Linked DNA regions of Homo sapiens: region 1 is linked to region 2. Evidence: fine-mapped expression QTL. A gene starts in region 2. The other region holds a variant in brackets. All regions are shown on one strand. Distances are between the middles of the regions.

What was found.
Region 1: its variant is fine-mapped to the expression of LINC02981 in prefrontal cortex (GTEx, PIP above 0.99).

What each region holds. Positions count from the first base shown.
Region 1 is chr7:26,454,684-26,465,607 of GRCh38, forward strand. The region is part of intron 1 of LINC02981 (long intergenic non-protein coding RNA 2981); the gene reads left to right. Among named protein-coding and RNA genes, the nearest start is that of SNX10-AS1, 61 kb to the left of the region's middle. The variant A/G (reference allele first, on the strand shown) is at 4,976.
Region 2 is chr7:26,392,239-26,403,162 of GRCh38, forward strand. LINC02981 (long intergenic non-protein coding RNA 2981) reads left to right here and starts at 6,331. Exons shown (of 5, transcript NR_148502.1): 1 at 6,331-6,783. It overlaps SNX10-AS1 (SNX10 antisense RNA 1), which reads right to left and starts at 7,180. Exons shown (of 2, transcript NR_136272.1): 1 at 7,103-7,180. RefSeq lists enhancers at 5,467-6,423, 5,498-5,737 and silencers at 6,208-6,667, 6,758-6,867.

The DNA.
Region 1 (10,924 bases), 62 kb after region 2:
ATCGTTAGCAGCTGCAGCAGCTTTGGAGTCCACATGTAGACAAAACTTTACAGTCTAGAAAACATGTTAACATTCACAATCTCATTTGATTCTCAGATACAGGAATAGAGAAAAGATACTTTTCTTATAGCATCACATCAATAAGAGACACATAAGTTATTAACAAAATACAGCAAATTGAGTCCAGCAATAGATGGGATTTATCCCAAGAATATAAGATTCTTTAAACATTTGAAATTTAATTACTATCATTTAATAAGTTACAGAATATGGGGAACATATGTAATCATCTAAATATGTAGAGAAAATGCACTTGGCAAAACTCAACACTCTCAGTAAACCAGGACTAGATGGGGATTTCTTCAACCTGTTATGAGGTCAGCTATGAAAAATCTACAGGTAACATATTTAGTGGTAAAATGTTAAACTCTTTTCCCATAAGAGTGGGATAAGGCAAGGGTGTTGACTCTTACCACTTCTATTCAACATTGTACTGGAGGTCTTAGCTAGTGCAATAAGGCAAGAAAAAAAGGGCCCACAGATTGGAAAGGAAGAAGTAAAGCTATCACTATTTGTAGATTGCATGACTATCTACACATTATTGCCATTATGAAGATAAGGAAAGTGAGGCTCAGAGAGATGAAGTGATTTACCTGAGGTCACGCAGGTATAAAGGATGGCGCTAGCACTCAAACTTGGATCCCCTGACTCCAAACCCTGGAATAAAAAGAGGGACTATTTCATTCACTTAAACCTAAAGTAAAGTTTCAGTTATGCTTCTTAAAGAAGATCCAGTGGCACTGGACATTTTCCAGAGCAAATCAACTAAAATGAAAGTGGGAATGCAGAAGGCTTATCAGTGTGGGACAGACTAACTGGCTAGGCTCTTTAGTCTGAGCACAGTGAAGTGTGGACAATATGGGACTAGGGTGACCGTGGATCCATTCACCAGCTCCTGAGATGGCAAAACTGTTGACCTCGGTAAGGTCAGGACTGGTAAAAATACTTTCTCACAGTAACTTCAATATACTTAAGAAACTCATTGTCAAGAGATGATGCAGGATAGAAAAGGTTTAGAAAAAAAGATGTTGAGAGATTCATAACTAGGCTGACCATATCATTCATCATCATAACTGATTTGACAGAAAGAGGGTCCTATTAGTAATTGCCCTAGGTCAACAGGCATAAAGACTGTCCTGGGCAAATTAGGACATTTGGTCCCCCAGCCTATAATAGATATAAAGGAAACTGGCATGTTTGGGTGGTGGGGGGTGGAGAGGCACATCGATAACATTAGTGAACATCTGTTCAGGCACTGGCCAGGCAAGTCATGGTGAATGTCTTAGGGCCTGGAACCCCTACTAGGAGAGTCAGATCTTTGTTGCCCCTTCAGGTGTTCCTGGCCCTTGCTGCTAATTATAATAAATAAGAACAGTAGCGACCATTTGTTGAGCACTTACTACACACCAGGCACTGAGAAGTGCTTTATGTGAAAAATTTCATTCAACAATCCTAGAAGGAAGGCACTATTCCTCTCTCCATTTTACAAGTGAGGAAACAGAATCTCAGAGAGGTTGAGTAACTTTCCCAAGGTCACTCAGCTGGAAAGTATTGGAGCTGAGAGTTGAACCCAGACTCTCAACCATGATGTTAACCAGTCTTTACCTTTTCTCTTTTGGGTTGCAGGCCATTTCAAGGACCCAGGTGTCTGGCATAGGATGAGTGTATGGTTAGACAGCACCAGAGTGGAAATAGGGGAACATCAGTGGCATCCCAGCCTCCATGTCAGCCTTGAGCCCACACTAAGAGACACACAGAAGCATAGAGTGACTGCTGGTGACTGCTCAGAGTAGACATGACCCTGGTTTTTGGCCCAGAGCAGCACCAGCTTCCAGAGCAAATCATGGAGTGAATTATCCAACAGCTTTGTTTTGTTTATTATTGCATTGTTTTGCTGTGTGGACAGACAGGAATCTTGACCCTCCAGATACCTGGGTAATGTTCCTATAACCACCCAGGTCATTTTTGGGTCAGGCAGCCCACATTCAATTCTTTTCATCTTTTTCCATCAGTCAATCCTTAATTATTTTTATTGCTTTTCTCTGAACTCTCATCAATTTGCTGGCATATCACTTTTCGGGTGGTGAGATACCAGAAGTGTTCTTCAGAGAAATTATAATCTCCTGTGCATGATGTAATGCTTTGGCTTAGGCAGTTGAAAATCACAGCAGCAATTTCAGCTGCTATTGGTATCATAACCCGCGATCAATTTGGTCGTCTCCAATTAACTTGACTTTTTTTTTCAGTGAAGGTAAGTACATGGCTCAAAGTCAATATAATTTATATCTGAACTATTCCAAGGATATGTATATATGTATGTGTGTGTGTATTAAAAGCAAAAAAAAAATGAAGCAAGTTCAGGAAGCAAAAAAGAATGTCTGGTCTTTGCTCATTACTGATCACCCCCGATGTGCCAGACCCCAGCTGCTAACTAAGCTCAAGAAGAATCTTATCTTGAAATGTTTAGGACATTTTAAACATTTTCTTCATTAAAAATTACTCTTGTTTTCCTTGACACCCTTTAATGATTACATTTTTACTCTCATGTTCCTATTTGTAGATTGAGAGCTTTCTCTTCTAGTAACAGTGACCCACTGTGACTCAGGTTATAACTATCTGTGGCTTGATTATTTTGAAGTTAATTATGCTTTGGCATGAATAATTACATTAAGCAGGTTATATTAGAATACTCACCATGTAATATTCTTTTCTCATAAGTAAAAATGGAAGACTGAGTTAACTTGGAGTTGAAAGAAATTAATTTGAACAATTTGCCGTCCCTCAGATTTAAGCCACTTTGGTTACTTCTTTTTTCCAAGTTGACTCATTTTTTTCAAGTCTATTTGTCTTTAGAGCAGCTCTCTTTTCTTTTCTTTTCTTTTGTTTTTCTTTCTTTCTTTATTTCTTTTTTAACCTTGTATTATTTGCACAAAGATGGCGGTGTGAGTATTAGTTCCAAAATGATGGCATTGTCTCATGACAATCACAGATGCAGTTTTAAAGTTCTGGTATTTAGCACGTAATAAAAAACACCAGGAACACACAGCTTCTCTGTGAGGGATGGCTCACTGGTGTACAGAGTTGAATCACACAGAGCTGGATCTGGTCACCCATCGTTTCTTGTCCAGATAGTGGCTTTGAAATGGCCTCTCAGAAAGTCAGAGATGACCTCAGGCCTGTCCACAGCTCCAGCAGCTGTTTCCTGCCTCCCAGCCATCTCATGATGGGATGCAGATCTAGTTGATGTTTTCAGCCCGCACGGATCACTTCCTTTTGTAATTTAGACCCATGAAGGCCTTCTCAAATGGTTTTGTTCACGGTGTAAGAAGTCATTTTCTTCCAAGAATCTACCTATGTTTCAGAGTTGGCCTCATTTTCTGCAAGGTCAGCTTTACCTGGGGGTGGCAGAGAGATGATTCAGGATGTGGATTTCATTAGTGCATTTTGTTTAAAAATGAATACAGATCACGTTCTTTGATGTGTGTCTTTAGTTGAAAACACCACCACCACCACCGTCACCAAATGCTACCCTAAAAACTTCTCTGTAAAGTCATGACAATATCCTCTTCTTGCAACTCCCCTGACTTTGTGTCTTTCTGTAATATACAGTATAATTTATAAAAGTGTGAGCAACTGTGGAATTGTTCTCCTAATAGATTCTGAAGATTCCAATTTCCATTCTGCCACACAAGACTGAAAATCCACTTGTGCTCACTTATCTGTATCTGTACCTCATCCCCACGCTGCATCAAAAATCAGGTTCAGGTGCAGGTTAAGAGCACGCATTTACCTCCAGAATATGGGACTTATTAAATATCTCTCCACAATTAACATCACCGTATCAATAAGAATTATCATTAGGTCCTGTCAATCAGGTGCTGAATTTTGCTTCAGGGAAACAAAACAATTTAAATTATAGCAAGTGCTCCCCTTCTTTTTTACTTGCTTCTCTTTAAATTGGATAATTATGTGGCTTTTCATTAGATTCCTCTAAGCATAATAGATCACGATATTCACCCTTTGACCTTGGTGATGAATGTCTCTGGTGAAAACATGTGACAAGCAGTGTTCTAATGAGAACAAAATACTGGATAACTGGAAATCTTGTATAATGAAAGGAGGAAGCAGGAGGGAAACATAACCTTTAAGGTTGATGCACAAAATATATTTGTAATGAGGCAATAATATGGGCTGGGGAGAAAAGGGGCTAGTTTTGTTTCTAATAATGTGGATGGAAATGATGATTTTTCTCCTTTGGAATGTGAAAAACAATGGAGAAACAGACATTTCAGGAAAGCTGTGCATCAGAAAATTCTGATCTCAACTGAATTGTAAGCACAGATGGAATGAATCTGCTGGCCTAAGTGGGGATTCAAATGACTCGCTGCGACTTGGAACACCTGCACATGGCAGTGTGAGGGTACCTCTCATTTTATTGCTTTCTTTATGGGAGTTCCAAATGTAAGGACAGCTTAAAAAGGAAACAATTTGGTCTCAGGGGATCTATAATTGTATTGGGGCTGTCAAGAAAGGACAAGGGAGGCAATGGGACACCCCCAGTACTTTCCAACCTCCCTCTCTTGGTTAGTCCCTGAACAACCTGCCTTGTTGGAGCTGGGACACCACCTACATCTTCAAAGTCCTCTTTCTGTGGTGTGAAGAGAGGTTGGGGCATCCTAAAGGTGGCCCTGAAATGTAGCCGGAGGTCAGGGAAAAGCCAATGACCTCTAGCTTCTTCTTCTTGGTTCCTCTCCCAACCCCCTGCACACCTGGATTTCCTGGATGGCTACTTATTGGGCTGACCCAGGCACAGCTTTGCTCCTTGTGGTGATGGATGGGGGATTTCCCATCAAATCAGCCCTTGGTACTGTGATTTGCTCTGGAGTTATGGAGACAGGTAGTTTGCTTCTTTTAG[A/G]TTTCTTAGATGCTTCTCTGTCCATTTAGGATATACAGCACAAGGGTAGCCCATTGTAAAGCCATTCATCAAGGGTATGGATTTGCTGTATCATCTAAGGACATGGGTTTGTGGCAGGAGCTACTTGTTAAATGCACAGGCTAGGCTGTGCTTGTTTTAGAGTGGAAGAAAGAGAGCTGGAAACCACCACTTATTCGGCACCCATTTTGTGCCAAGCACTCGCCCAGGCTCTTGATACATGCTCTCTGATTGAATTCTTCCATCAAACCTTAGCCTACTTTATGATTTGGAAAATGGCCCAACCTGACTCAGAATGACCTGACAGCAAAGCTGGGGTTTAATTGCAGGTTGGCCTGACTCCTAAGAACATGTTCTGTAGGTTAAAGGTAGCACAGAATGTAACACTTTTACCGTCTCCCAAGAACCATGCCTTTACTGTAACGTTATCCCCAGCTTACCTTTCCAGGTCTTGATGGAATCGATTTGGATTATTTGGACTTAATATTATTACCATCAATCTTGCTAGTTGTACAGTTTATTTTGTTTAACAGAAGACATGCAAGAGAAGAAACAGCTGCCTCTATAAGTTGATTTCTTCCGGTGAATTCCAGTTTGGAGGAAGAATTTGCAGGGAATGATGTATGTGCTTACAAAGGATTAAGAAACTAACCAGGCTCAAAACCATGGTTCCCTTTGTTTATCTGCAGATCTGTCCTGTTTAAGGTAAAATTCACCCTGGGCCCTCGCCCCTGACCTCCACCAGGTGACTTTTCATGGAGACATTCTCACTGCCAGCAATCCTTCAACTCTTTCCACAGAAGTCTGCCAGGAAGAGAAATGTCCAAAGTCCATTTTGAGCTCTCAGCCTGGGATTTAGCTGCAATTTTTCATGGACACTGGGCAATTACTGGCATACGAAGCCAAGGAGAAGCAAGAGAGGGAAGGCCCTGCTTCTCTAGTGAGATCATCATCTTTGCATCAGTCACTGTTAGAGACATCTCTGGTTTCTGTTCCCAGCCTAACTGCACAGAAAAGAGATATTCTAGCTTCTCCCTAGTTACGCATATGTGGAGAAAACTGAAAAAGATGGGTAATCATGGTTGTTGTAAGTACTTGGGGGCTCCAGAAGGTGTCCCTAAGAACTCCATAAAGAGGGGCTGTTGTTTCTCTGAGATTTAAACCTTTAGCACAAAATGGATCACAGTGCAGCTGCTGGAAGTCATCCGAAGGAGCTGAAAATTTTCCAAGCCCACACCCTCAATTGCAACTTGTTTGAGCAATTTTATTAGCAAATCTAAAGAAATAATGCTTTGATCAGAAAGGAGAGGGTTTACTCAGCATGGAAGCAGGACAAAAAAAGGGACTCAAAGGCAAATGTTAGCAGGGACTGCCCAAACCTTGTCCAAAAGAGAAGGAGCTGAAGTCAATCGACGGGTAATTTCTAGGCCTCTTGAAAGATGCATCTCCAATACGGTGTCAGAAATCATAGATATCACAAGTCTGTAATCAACAGATTTCAAGGATTCAGGTCCCCTTTGGGAAGAACATCCCATCCTATCATGGTGCCACTTAAACACTTAGTTTTCCTGTCTCAATTCAATGTTCACCAAACCTTGTCTTCAGGTTGCCTTGTTGCTGCTGAACATTTGCCAACAGAAAGTAGACAGGATGCTGACACTGTTGTAGACCATCTCTGATAGTGATTTCTTATTAAAAATGTCAATGCTGTGTTTTGATCTTATACATACATGCTGTGCTTCTGAGGTGTACCCATGAAAAGCTGGGCCAATTCTTACCAGTTGTCACCCTGCTGACAAGTGCAGGGTGCCGAGCCTTTGACTTAGAGCTGAATGCCAGCCCTGGACAGTGGGAACACAGCAAGCTGGTGCCTGCTAAGGAGGCTTCCCACAGAAAAGCTGCTGCTGCTTCACCTCAGCGTATACCTTGACACAGTTGCTATCCTGAAAGCGGTTTTTTCTTACCATTTTAACTAGTTTTAAGTGACCAGTTGAGCGGCATTAAGCACATTCACATTATTGTGCAACCGTCACCACCAGCCATCTCCAGAACTTCCTCCTTCTCCAGAACATTCTCCCAAATGGAAACCCTGCACCATTCAACAACTCCTTGTTGTCCCCTCCCCACAGCTTCTGGTTGCCACCATTCTACTTCCTCTATGAACTTGACTATTCTAGGTACTTTATATAAGTGAAACCATACAATGTTTGTCCGTTCGTGTGGGGTGTATTTCATGTCGCATAATGTCTTATGGTTCATCATGTCATGGCATGTGTCAGAGTTTCCCTCTGTTTTAAGGTTGAATAATACTTTGTTGAATGTATAAACCACATTTTGTTCATCTATTTGCTGATAGACACTTAGATTATTTCCACCTTTTCGTTGTTGTGAATAATGCTGCTGTGATATGGGTATACAAATACCTGTTCAAGTCCCTGCTTTCCATTCTTTTGAGTATGAGAGAAAGAATTTTAAATCTCTGCAGTAGTAATACTTGATCTTCTCATAGTGTGCTATGGTTTGTGAGGCCTGTAACATATTTATCTGGTCCTGTGAAGTAGATTGGTAGGTGGGTAGACAGGGCTATTGCCTTCATTTTGCTGAAGGAAAATTGAGATGTAAAGAGGTCAAGGGGGGAGCCTAGATCCAAAAGCTGGCTTTCTAACCACCAGCCAAGGGCTCTCTTCACCACCAAGCCAACTCTCAGGGCAGCAGCAATGTGTACCTTATTAACCGCTGCACCCCAGGTCCTAGCACAGGGCTGGTCCATAACAGGCGCCCAATAAACATGTGTCATAATCTAACTTGGAAGAAAATGCAGTGAATATCTTTCATTTTCATGGTACAAAGGAAAGTACCTCATGCCTATTTAAAATATTATACTGAAGTGTGACATGTGCATTCTGTATTCGCTATATCCTATACCCATCATTTAAAGTTGCTCCCAAAGTAAGTCATTTGGCTTTCCAACAAGGACATTATTTCATTTTATGGAAACTGGGAGAGATGTTTTGTCTTCTGAAGTATCTGGAGATTTCTTCTTCATTCCCAGACTCTTTCATCATCAAAACTACACAGCTTCTCACGGTCACTTACTTTGTTAAATTTGTAGTTTAAAATGAACATAAGGAAAACTACTTCTCCAACAAAGGATGCAGAGTTCCTGTTGTGCTCAACTCTGCCAGATCGTGGGCTTATTGACAATAGGTTTGGAAGAGCCTGGGAACAACCACATCCAATATACCTTTGGGATAATTCCATCCGCTATGTATCTTTCTCACCCTTGTGATGGTTTGAGAGGCAGAGGTACCTACACAGACTAAGTTGAGCTCCAGAGGTAGAGCCTGGCATTTCTGAACTCTTGAAGAGGTCCGTGACCTGAATCAGCATCCTGATTTAAAAGCAGTAACCAGTAACACAAAGGATAAATGCTTGACAGGATGGAGACCCCATTTTCTTTTTATTTTTAATTTTATTATTATTATACTTTAAGTTTTAGGGTACATATGCACAATGTGCAGGTTTGTTACAAATGTATACATGTGCCATGTTGGTGTGCTGCACCCATTAACTCGTCATTTAGCATTAGGTATATCTCCTAATGCTATCCCTCCCCCCTCCCCCCACCCCACAACAGTCCCCGGTGTGTGATGTTCCCCTTCCTGTGTCCACTGAACAATGTCTCATTGTTCAGTTCCCACCTATGAGTGAGAACATGTGGTGTTTGGTTTTTTGTCCTTGCGATAGTTTGCTGAGAATGATGGTTTCCAGCTTCATCCATGTCCCTACAAAGGACATGAACTTATCATTTTTTATGGCTGCATAGTATTACATGGTGTATATGTGCCATATTTTCTTAATCCAGTCTATCATTGTTGGACATTTGGGTTGGTTCCAAGTCTTTGCTATTGTGAATAGTGCTGCAATAAACATACGTGTGCATGTGTCTTTATAGCAGCATGATTTATAATCCTTTGGGTATATACACAGTAATGGGATGGCTGGGGGAGACCCATTTTCTATGATGTGATTATTACACATTTTGTGCCTGTGTCAACGCATCTCATATACCCCATAAATATATACACCTACTATGTACTCACAAAAATTAAAGATAATAAATGCAGTGATAATAAATGCGCAGAGAACTTGAACTATCTAGTGGAGCTTGTGACTTACCCAAGGTCACATAGCCAGTTAGGGCTTCCTTAAAAGTCTTTTTAGTAGTTTTTAACCTTAGAAGCAGAAGTGGGTGATGGCAGACAGAAACCAAAAGTCATGTAAATTTTATGTGTTTATAAGAATGTATTGGGGTGAGGAGATAGAGATGGACAAGGACTAGGATAGTGGTAACTGGACAAAGACCCCCTCCCACTGGACACTCTACCCTCTTCCCTGACCTCCTTCCAGAAAGGTATCGTGGAATGTTCACAGGTATTTTGCTGAATTAAACATTCCAGGAAACACTGGTATAGACAATTTGTAATTCATTGCATAATTACTGGAATTCATTGGATAGCAACCAACTCTCCAAGGCATTGTTCTCAGTACAGACCTGGCCTGAGTATCCTCCAAATCTGAACTTTTAGAGATGAATCCAAATCAATAGAGAGCAGAGTCATAGAGAGTTACTGTCAGAGAGCATCCAGTTAAAGGGTGAATGCCAGAGCCCATGTGTATCAATCAATAGAGTGCCACATGCCTATTTGAAGTATTATACCAAAGTGTGACACGTGCATTCTGCGTTTGTGCTATCCTATGCCTATCATTTAAAGTTGCTCCCAAAGTAAGTCATTTGGCTTTCCAACAAGGACATTTTCTTTCATTTTACAACATGCAATATATTTGTAACGACCTGTCATTTTTCTGAATTCAGTTCACCACCCTTGCAGGACGGAGAAGGACTGCCGTAAATGCAAGAGGGGTACCAAGGGCACCCTGTCCCTCTGTGGGCTTGTGTGAAGGAGGAGGAGGGGAGGATGGGGGACGGCTTACACAGGTCCAGACAGCCTATGCTGGTCTCCATTACTACTAAGCCCTGACCAGGCATCTCTGGGGGCCATGGTCAAGTGTCACCTTGAAAGTTGTGATTTTAGGCCGGGCGCGGTGGCTCACACCGGTAATCCCAGTACTTTGGGAGGCCGAGGTGGGTGGATCACTTGAGGTCAGGAGTTTGAGACCAGCCTGGCCAATATGGTGAAATCCCATCTCTATAAAAAATATAAAAATTAGTTGGGCAAGGTGGTGGGCACCTGTAATCCCAGCTACTGTATAGGCTAAGGCAGGAGAATCGCTTGAGCCCAGGAGGCAGAGTTTGCAGTGAGCCGAGATCGCGCCACTGCACTCCAGCCTGGGTGACAGAGTGAGACTCTGTCTAAAAAAAAATGTTGTGATTTCAGAGTGATTCTAGGGTCACCTTCTTGTGGGAAAAGAAAGGAAACCCACATTTAGTGAGCAAGTACTACGTTCCAAGCACCATCCATTCTTCATTTCATTTAACCCTCACAATAACTGTAGAAGACAATTTTACTTTTCCATTCTATTCCTAAGAAAACTGAGATTCGAGAGATTTAAAAACTTGGCCAAGATCACACAGTAACCAAATGGAAGAGCTGAGACTTGACATCCGAGCTGCTGCTTTCTCAGGTTGATGGAAGTTAACTGTGGGCTTTCGTCAATTACTTTTGTTCTGGAAAGAGGCAACCAGGCAGTGGCTGGCATGAGAAAATTCTTTTCCTAGGCAAGGGAATAGAGGGCAGAAATAAACTCATCTTGGTCATTCTGAAGGCAGGGGGATGGATGAAAGGCGAATGCCAGCAACACCATGTGTTCAAAGTTGTTTTGTTGTTAACCATGGGCATTATCAAGGCCTTTAATGTTGAGCCACCTGGCAATGAATGGCTAGAGCAGATATACATTTTGTTTTTCTTG
Region 2 (10,924 bases):
TAATAGTACATGTGTAGGTCAGAGACACACTAACCCTGACAATCATTTCATAATATTCTCTCTTTAGCATTAGAAGAGAAGAGAAGGGAGTAATCAATATGCAACATCAGAGGTATATTTCACATAGATACGGTATAGGCACTTAGAAAAAAAGAGTCAGATCTTTACAAAAACCTGTCAGCCTGGCATTAATCTTGCATTATGAATAATGTGGCTATCTATGAATCTTTAATATTTTTTAAATGATGAAATTGTATTGTATCCTCTACCAAAGCAAATTTGATAAAGTGTGAGAATAGTTTGATCAATGAAGATGTTGATATATGTGAATAAAAAAATTTAAAGCTAGCTCATTAAAGTGCAAAAAGCAACAGCTATACTTTGACCTCAGTGTAAATTTTCAGCCCAAATTGAGTTTTACCGTTATCCATAATGTCACGGAATTATTCTTTAAACAAGTTATAAAATAATTGTTTGGTTAAAACCATTATCCCACAAGACATCTCTGGTAATATACCACTAGCAACCAATTTGGTATTGGCTTCTGGTTTATAATAAGACCATCTTTGAGAATTCCTAACAAACACTTAGATTAATGTTTCATATATAAGATACAGCAGTGCTCATGAAAGATTACAAATCCAATGGCTTTGCTAGAAATACTGTTACATTTTTTTTTCCATGAAGTAATCCTGGAATAGTTTGTTCTGGTTTAATTTTCAGTGAAAGTAAGAAAAGTAGATCAAGAACTTTGCTTATGAAATTTGCCTAATGAAGAAATTTTAATCAGTGCTTGTTGAACTGAAGATAAAAATAGAGTTTGTTTCTACAGATTTGAGGAGAATTAACATGTATCTGATTGTTAATATTTGATTCTTGTTTAATTATTTATTATATCAAGGAATGAATCTGTCAAGTAAATAATGAAATGCGTACATGCAGCATATGTAATTAGGTTAGGTGCATAAATCCAAAGTGTTCACTTTATAGTTGTCAGTGCAAAATTTATTAATAATGAGAAATGTTAAGTGAAGAAAATTCTTAACACCGTCTACCTCATTAGTGTGGATTACAGCAATTGTTGGCTGAAGAAAAAGAAGGCTACAAATAGTCGTGGTTAGGCTTCATTTTCTTAGTTGTCTTTTAATCGTTTAAAAGTATTAGTGAATTGGAGCACATTGGTTTCTCTTTTTAGAAATGTATGATTTGAAACAGGAGTTGTGGATTCGAATGCATGCTGCCAACGGAATAATTCCACACTGAAAAAATACAGGCCTCAGGGTTTCTAAATCCAAACAATTATTTAAGGGGGGAAATTCAATTAACATTTGAGAAGAAAAACCTTCTTTTATGATTAAACTGTCAGATTTGAATCTGAAGATTCAGCTTTAAGTTCGCTGTGAAGGTGCATAGACAGGAGGCGATGCATCACCAGCTGTCTCTGTTTCCCCTGCCTGCCCCAGCTCAATGGGGACAGAAAGAAGCACCTTGTCAAGTACCTTCCGTGAACCCCAGGTTTGCCTGGGCTGCTGGCACAGGTGATGAAACAGGGATTTGAGGAGACCTCAGGTACCTGGGAATGAGACTTGATGGGATCGCTGAGTATGTTGGCGTGGAGATTACAGGGACCTGGTTGAGTGGGTGCCACCAACTCCATATTAAAGAATCTGACTCATAACCTGGTTAGAGTTAGGTCTGTACTTCATGTTAATCATTAATACCAATGTATGGTCTAAGGGGCAACCAACCAGAAACAAGATAATGAGATCCCACTGTGTCACTAACTAGTCTGGTAACTTCCAGAAAATTCTCTAAATTCTAGGGCCTTAGTTTCTTCACCTATCAAATTAGAGGACTGTCATTCTGGCTTTAAAGGTCTATGATTCACAGAGATGGTATTGGAATACATCAGATTTTGTGCAAGCAGTTCCATGAGTGTCTTGAAAAGAAAGGGAGAGTATGATGGTACGAACATTCATCATCTGACCAGGTATTGTTCTAGAGACACTTATACATTTATTAGAAGATGGAAGATACGATGACAAAAGGAAGTCCATGTGGTATTTTAGTAAATGACATGACTAAAAATGTCTTACTAAGGGAGTGTGGGCTGCCTTTCCTCAGCAGCGGGGACCAGAGACGTTCGAGTTAGTTACCGTGTATTGACTCCAGATAAATGACATGACTTAGCCACTACTTAAGAACTTTCTTACCTCATATATATATATATATATAATTTAAATATATATTATACATATTTAAATATATATAATATATTATAAATAATATATATTATTTATATTATATAATTTTTATATAATATAAATATATAAAATATATAAAAATATTATTTATAATATATATAAATTAAAAGAGAACTAGAAGGCCTATTTAGGATAATGAAGTGACATTACAAAACAAAGACTACATGTTACAATTTTCCTATCTGCCTTCGAGAGGGGAATGACTAATAATTTTATCTTCAAACATTTCTATGATTTACACGTTTTCAAAGAGGAATATTCTGATGGTGAATAATCCAGTTATTACATTATTTGCTAAATTAAAATAATTATTTGCTATTCTCCTGACTTAATTCTCAGATGTCTACAAACTAAAGAACTTAGGGCAAAAATGGCTTAATTCAGTCAAGAATTCATATTGTTAAAGGAAAAATCCTATGTGGGATCCATAATATGGCTAGTTATTTAGTGGGGAGAAAGCAAAGCAAAAGAGCAAATATTTTACTGCACCCTAAGAAAATATCAATTGGATTCAGCCAAGCAGTTTGCTATCGACTAAATCAATATATACCATTTTTTCAAACACTATTTTTTGGTAGAAAGAACCAATATAAGAATAATCAAAGTGTGATTGGTTTTGATCTTCAAATAAAAAGCCATCATAAGTCGCTGATACTGGCCAGGCGTGGTGGCTCACGCCTGTAATCCCAGGACTTTGGGAGGCCGAGGTGGGAGGATCACCTGAGGTTGGGTGTTTGAGACCAGCCTGGGCAACATGGTGAAACCCCGTGTCTACTAGAAATACAAAAATTAGCCAGGCGTGGTGGCATGCGCCTTTAATCCCAGCTACTTGGGAGGCCGAGGCAGGAGAATTCCTTGAACCAGGGAAGCAGAGGTTCCAGTGAGCTGAGATGGTGCCACTGCACTCCAGCTTGGCCTGGGCAACAGAGTAAGACTCCATCTCAAAAAAAAAAAAAAAAAAAGAAAGAAAAGAAAAGTTGCTGATACTTTTAGTGCCTACTCAATAGCCATCCTCCCTTATTCCTTATTCCTTGGGAGCTGCCCTGTCCAGATTCTAGAGAAAAAATAAAAAAGTTTCTAAGCCACTAAGCTTTGGGATAGTTTGGCTGCAGAAATTGATGACTGGGAAACGGACTAAAATTCAGCTTTTGTTTTGGCATTGCCTGTCCTGTCAATTCCCTGCTCTCCTGCACCGCTCCCCTTACCCTCAAAATAATTCAAGACTAAATCCTGATTAGTTATCAATTCTGATAATCTTGCCTCTCTTGCCAGTGGTAGTTTAGAGATAGTCACGTGCCCTGGTTCTGGCCAATGAGAAAAGATCTGAGGGATCTTTGGTATAATTTCTCCACTCTTAAAAAATTTGAGAACAGTCAACTTTTTTGGCTGGCCTTTGCCATGTCTTAAAGTGATGCCTGGAACTATGGCAGCCATTTTGAGACCTTGAGGAGAACTAGCTAAGGACAAGGTCAGCAAGCTGAGGATGGCAGAATTTCAGAAAGACGAGAAAAACTTGACAACATTAAACATTTTTGACCCACTAAATTAACCAAACTTAGCATCTGCTACCTTGGTACTTCCTACATGAGATACTACATTTTCTTCATTTTTAAAGCTACTACAGACAGGTTTTCTATTACTGAAATCAAAGTTATCCTAAGAAAAACAAGCAGCGTATGAAGCTTTATTTTATCACATCTGACAGAACAGCTCAGCCTTAAGTTGGGAGTAAGATTTATACAATTCTGCTGATAATATTTATTACTCATTTTAATTGTTTGCATGGTAATATTGAAGCCCCCCAACTGTTAGGAAATGTGCATTATTTTAACAATACTGGGTATCAGTAAATAAAATATGCTAAATATTGCTGAAAATAAACACTAAGTAACTCAATTTGTGTCATTATATGTGAGGAATGGGAAAAGCTTCTTGGAAGAGGTGATATTTAATCTGGACTTGGAAAGATCGGTGATATTTGAACAGTTGGACATGAAGTTCAAGGGCATTCTAGAGAATGTCATGGGAGAGGAAATGCAATAGCATGATTTGGGGATGTACTGTAGTAGACAAATAAGGCTGGAGCTGGGTTAGGTGCAGATTGTGGAGGGTCTTAAATGTCTTGCTAAGGGAGTGTGGAGTGCCTTTCCTCAGCAGTGGGGAACAGAGATATTTGAGTTAGTTACTGTGTATTGATTCCAGATAAACGAATAAAGCATATAGTATGTATATATTTTTTATAGTTTTTTTGGTATATTTTCATGAAAAGTGTGTATGATTTTAGTGAAACCATAAAAATCCATTTTCATTCCAATTTAGATTCTGTTTTAAAGTAGTTGCCAAGGAAACTAGTAAGTGACTGGTTATGCCCGATTTTCCCTAAGTTCAAAATTAGATGCAAATTCTTCAAAGAGACTACTTGAAGGCCAGTAAACATTTCAAAGGCAGTCAAGCTCAGACGCCTGGGTGTGTGGGTGCAGGAGGGTTAGAAGGGGGGTTCTGATGTTCCTGGAGGGAAGAGATGCCTTGCCTGTGTAGGCAAAGAGCTACTTTGAGGGAAAAAAGCTGAATGAGTTAGAGGTGAGTGCCCAGGAAGAGAAGCTGGAAGTGAGAGGTTCCACTGAAGTGCCTAGAAACAGACACTCTTTAATGGAGACAAGACCAAATTTCTGGAGTTTTCCTTTGTTTACATCTTTTTATCTTGTCTCGTTTCAAAAAGGAGTTAACTTTAAATATGTCCCTGAATAAACACGAGGCAGCATGACTCCATCGCAGGTAGAGATAGGACTAAAACATGATTCTCCTAAACTTTAACCCTGGAGTTAGCTCACTTAATCCTGTAAATCTCTGCAAAGACTAACTTTGTTCCCTGGCTCCTCCGTGGTTGCCAGGTGGTGGATATACATTCTACAACAGAAGAAACTGGAATCGCTAGAGGTGTCTTTTTTTAGGGCAAGGAAGCATTTCCCAGAAAACCCCAACAGATGTCCCCTGGCTTGGCCTTGGCCAGGACTGGTCACATGCTCTTTTCTAAGCCAGTGCCTGGGCAAGGGAAGGGGTTGGTCATAACGGATTTAGACTACTTAGGATTTACTTCTGGGCCAAGGAGAGGGAGGGGGTGAGGGAGGGGGTGAGGGAGGGGGTGAGGGAGGGGGTGAGGGTGGGGGCGGGGGGCTGGCCCGGCCTAAGATGGCTGGGGGTGATGCGTTCGGGGGACAAAGGAGTGCTGGACAGTTGTGTGAGCTGTAAGAAGGACCCGGAAAATACTGCAGAGTGATTGAGAGTGTAGAGGGGCCTGGGTTCTCACCTGTGCTCCCTCCCACCTTAGCTGGGTTATGCTGGGAACCTTTCAAGGCTTTGCTAAGCCTGGGTTTCCAGGAGTGCAATAAGATCGCTGTGATAAACATGTAGGTAAAGCAGTTGGCATAGTACCTTGCGTAGAATAGTCCTCAGCATATGTTTACTACTGTCGTTGTTGCTATTAATAAAAGTGACCTAGCTCCTCTCCTCGAGAAGTTCACAAGGGGCCCAAATGTGACAGGGGGAGCTATCAGAAGGCGGGAGGTGACTTCTTGCCAGGGAGCAAGCCAGGGCAAGAAGAGAGGCGCCGTGAAGCCTGCGTTCCCTCCCGCACGCGGCTTGCCTCGGTGGCCACACGGGGAGCTCAGCAAGGCCCAGGGTTCGGGAGGCGGGTCCTGCACAGCGACGCAGCCTTGTCCCGGTGGCCGCAGGCCTGGGGAGCAGGGCGCAGCACACCCGCCGCCCGCTTGCAGGCGAGACGAGAGCGGGGCGCCGGGATGCTGGCGTCCAATTTAACCACCAGGGCGCACGGGACGGAGGCCGGGGGTCCCGCTTTTCCGTCAGAGTTCGCGGTCACGAGTGGAACCCACTGAGCACTCTAGTTTCCTGGTATTTTCATGGCAGTAATTGGATGACAGAGTCAAGAGGCAGGGCCTGCGCCGACACTGACTAGCAACGCGCGGCCTCTGAGCCGCGCCCGGCCGCCCACCCCTTCCTCCTCCAGCACCGGGCCGGCTCCCCCTCCCGGCCCGGCTCGGCGGCTGGGGGGTGGGCGGAGCCGCGGCCGGGCAGTTCATTATGTTGGACAGGGCGCGTCTGCGCCTCCGGCCGCCGCGGCTCCCGGGGCCTCCGCCTGCAGCCGGCGGCGGAACGAGGGCAGGCGGCTGAGACAGGCGAGCTATTTGCATTCCCCGGCAGTCATTTTTATATGCGGAGGTAATGAAGTTGTCAGCGGCGCCCCGAGTGTGGCAGAGCCTGATATTCAAATCGCCCTGCCCGCTCCGCCTGCTCCCGCCCGCTGGTCCCGGGAGCCCCAGGCTGCGCGCGCCCGCACCGCATCGCCGCTTTGCCCCGCGACCGCGCGCGCCTCCTCGTCCTCCCCCGCGCCTTTGTTTCCGTCTCCTTCTCCTTTCCCTCCTCTTTTGTGTCGGGCCAGACTCAGCCCCAGAAACCAGCCACCCTGCCGCGTCCGACTGCCAGGGATCCCTCACGCCGCGAGGTGAGCTGGTCGCAGGTGTGGGGAAGTTCGCGGGTGCAGCTAGGCCGCCGCCCTCGCGCTCGACGCCACGCCCGCCTCCTCTTTCCTTCCCCAGGGGCCCCTTGCCCTCCCTTCACCTCCGTCTCCAAGAAAGATGACCTAGTACTGCCATTACCGTTTGGGCCTAGAGGAGTTTTCGTTCCTCTTTCCGAATGCATATTTGTGGTCATTTTTTATGATTGCAGAAACCCAACACACAGCTATTCTGTCAGGCTGCCGAGAAAAGGCTGTTCGGCAGTTGCAGCCCTGGTGAGGCAATGAGGAGGAAAGGTGGACGCACCTGCCTGGAGTGGTTGAAGGAAGGCAGTGAACATCCACGCTCCTGGGGTTGGTTTTCCTGAACCTCTGTAGCTGTGCTGCTCACTGGGGCAGCCACTGACCACAAGAGGCTGCCGAGGGCTTGCAGTGTGGCCAGGCCAGACCAGGATGTTCTCCAAGTGGGAAATACACACCCCATTGTAAAGAAGACTGTATGGAAAAAAGAATGTGAACTGGCTCATTCATCATTTAAAAACATTGATTGCATATTGAAATGATAATATTTTGGGTATATGGGGTGAAATAAAGTATCATGAATTAAATCTTTTTTTAAAAATGTGGCCACAAAGAACATTTAAATTTACACATGTGGTTCACATTATATCTCTGTGGGATCGCACTTAAGACCCAACCCCACCCATCCTCTAACTCTGCCCTCTCAGCTTGCTCTACAGGTACTTTGGAACAGGGCAGGGATGGAGGGAAGGTCCTTGTATCTTAGGGATCAAATGCCCAGGAAAATAATTAGGAGGTGTTTGGGATTATGCTGAAAACCCTGACAACACTGAATAGCAGATGTCTCTTTCTTTTCCCTTTGTTCACTGTAAAGAAAAACTTACACTCCCCCACAGCCATGCCACAATTCCATGGACCAACCATTCATGTGTGAAGGTGGGCCTCTAGGAGTGTTTTGTGCCTTTTAGGAGTTATTTGTGGCACACTAAACTTGCTGACATGCCATTTAGAAAAGTGAATACTGTGTACGCACTGTAACAACTATTCCATAAGTATTTTTGGTGTACACTGTTCCTCAGCACTCACAGGCTTCGGAGTAGGGGCTCCCGGAGTATGCATTGACACGATGCGCTGCAAATGATCCGGGCGTGGGGAAGTCCCCGAGTGTGCATTGATTCCACACACGGCCACGGCTCCTACAGGGCTTTTATGGTGCAGCTCGCCAATGATCCGTGTGTTAAAGACTCCCCAAATACACATTGACACGATAGACTGGAGTTGTTTGGGTCTATCGTGGCAATGATCCGGGGATAATGGCAGTGTCTTATACAATTTCACTGAGATTGGAGTGCTCATGGTCCTAATGGCAGAACCGGAACTGCCCCAGTTAAGTCCCACCATGGCGCCCAGTAAAGGGTGTGTGGGTCTTTGACCTTCTGCTTCATGACACTGTGGCATTGCTAATTTTACTGATATTTTAACTAACATAATTGAGTTAGCATTTTTTTCCCCCTGAAAATTCATTTTTGTAATTCAACACCTGAATTAGGGAGTCCATCTAGTGATGGTTTCATTTGGTTAATCATAAGCTAAAGACCTAGGAAAGGTCATTCTTAAACCTAAAGTGTTTTGGGAAAAATAATCGTGGGAGATGCATATGAGCTTGAGACAGAGTTAATATGGAATAAATAACCTCAGTCCTGAGAAAACCTAGTTGGCTAGGCTGAAATAGACAAGATGAGAAGGTGGGAAGAAGATGTTTTTAAAAATAATGAAAGTAACATATTCAATAAAAATAATTCAAACACTGTAGAAGTGTATGAAATAAAAAACAGAATCCTCCCACTCCTTCCTTCCTTCTTTCTATACCATTCACTGTTACAAGCACTATTAATATTTTTGTATATTCTTCCAGTAACTTAAAAACACATGCAAATATATACAGTCATGCATCTCTTAATGATGGGAATATGTTCTGAGAAATGCATCGTTAGGCGATTTCATCATTGCACGAATATCAGAGAATGTACTTATACAAACCTAGATGGTGTAGCCTACTACCCACCTAGGCTATATGGTATAGCCTATTGCTCCTAGGCTACAAACCTGTACAGCATGGTACTGTAACAGAATACTGAAGGCAATTGGCCAGGCACTGTGGCTCACGCCTGTAAATCCCTGCACTTTGGGAGGCCAAGGCTGGCCTTCAAGACCAGCCTGGCTAACATGGTGAAACCCTGTTTTTACTAAAAACCCCAAAATTAGCTGGGCTTGATGGCATACACGTGTAGTTCCAGCTACTCAGGAGGCTGAAGCAGGAGAATCACTTGAATCTGGGAGGTAAAGTTTGCAGTGAGCAGAGATCATGCCACTGCACTCCAGCCTGGGCAACACAGCAAGACTCCATCTCAAAAAAAAAAAAACAACACTGTAGGCAACTGTAACACAATGGTGAGTACTTATGTATCTAAATGTAGAAAAGGTACAGCAAAAATACAGTATAAATGGTAAAAAAAGAAAAAATACAACTGTATAGGGCACTTACCATGAATGGAGTTTGCAGGTCTAGAAGTTGCTCGGGTGAGTGGAGTGAGTGGCGAGTAAATGTGAGGGTCTAGGACATTGTGTATACTAGTGTAGGCTTTATAAACACCGTACACTTAGGCTACACTAAATTTATATTTAAAAAGGTAATTGCTCTACAACATTGTGATGGCTATATTGCCACTAGGCTATAGGAATTTTTCAGCTCCATATTAATCTTATGGGTCCACTGTTGTATATTTGGTCCATTGTTGACCGAAATGTCATTATGTGGTGCATGACTGTATATCTACTCTTTGTTTACACAAATGGGTTAATGCTGAATGTTAATCTTCAACATCTTATATTTTCAATTAATAATACAGTCATGTGCCCCATAATGATGTTTTGATCAGCAATGGACTGCATATACGATAGTGGCCCTGTAAGATTACCGTGGAGCTGAAAAATTCCTATCGCCTGGTGATGTCTTAGCCCTTGTAACATCTTAATGCAACACATTAGTTGTGTGCTTGTGGTGGTGTCAGTGTAAACAAACCTACTGCGTTGCCAGTTATTTAAAAGTATACCACATACCACAGTATGCCACATTATCAAGTACATAATCCTAGATAATAACAATAAACAACTGTTACTAGTTTATGCATTTACTATACTATTTATTATTATTTTAGACTACTTTCTACACATGCATACACACATATTTATACACACATATATGTATAAAAGTTAACTATAAAACAGCCACAGGCAGGTCCTTCAGAAGGATTCTAGAAGAAGGAATTTTAATAGAGGAGATGGGGGTGGGCACGGTGGCTCACACCTGTAATCCCAGCACTTTGAGATGTCAAGGTGGGTGGATGACCTGAGGTCAGGAGTTCGAGACCAGCCTGGCCAACATGGTGAAACTCTATCTCTACTAAAAATACAAAAATTAGCTGGGTGTGGTGGCAGGCACCTGTAATCCCAGCTACTTGGGAGGCTGAGGCAGAAGAATCGCTTGAACCCAGGAGGCAGAGGTTGCGGTGAGTGGAGATCATGCCATTGCACTCCAGCCTGGGTGATAAGAGCAAAAAAAAAAAAAAAAAAAAAATGAGATGGCAGTTCTATGCACTGATGACCTTACAATGGGACAAGATGTGGGGATGGAAGACAGTGATATTAATGATCCTGATCCTGTGTAGGCCTAGGCTAATGTATCTGTTTGTGTCTTAGTTTTCAACAAAATATTTAAAAATTAAAAACAATAAAAAATAAAAATTTTAAAAATAGAGAACAGCTGATATAAATAAGGATAAAAAGGAATTAAATAATTTTGTACAGCTATACAATCTGTGTTTTAAGGTACGTATTATTACAAAAGAATCAAAAGGTTAAAAAAATTAAAAATTTTATAAAGTAAAAAGTTATAGTAAGCTAAGTTTATTATTGAAGAAAGAAAATAATTAATAAATTTAGTGTGGCCTAAGTATACAGAGTTTATTTATTATTTTCACTTTTTATTTTTTTGAGATGGGGTCTTTCTATGTTACCCAGGCTGGATTAGAACTCCTGGGCTCAAGTG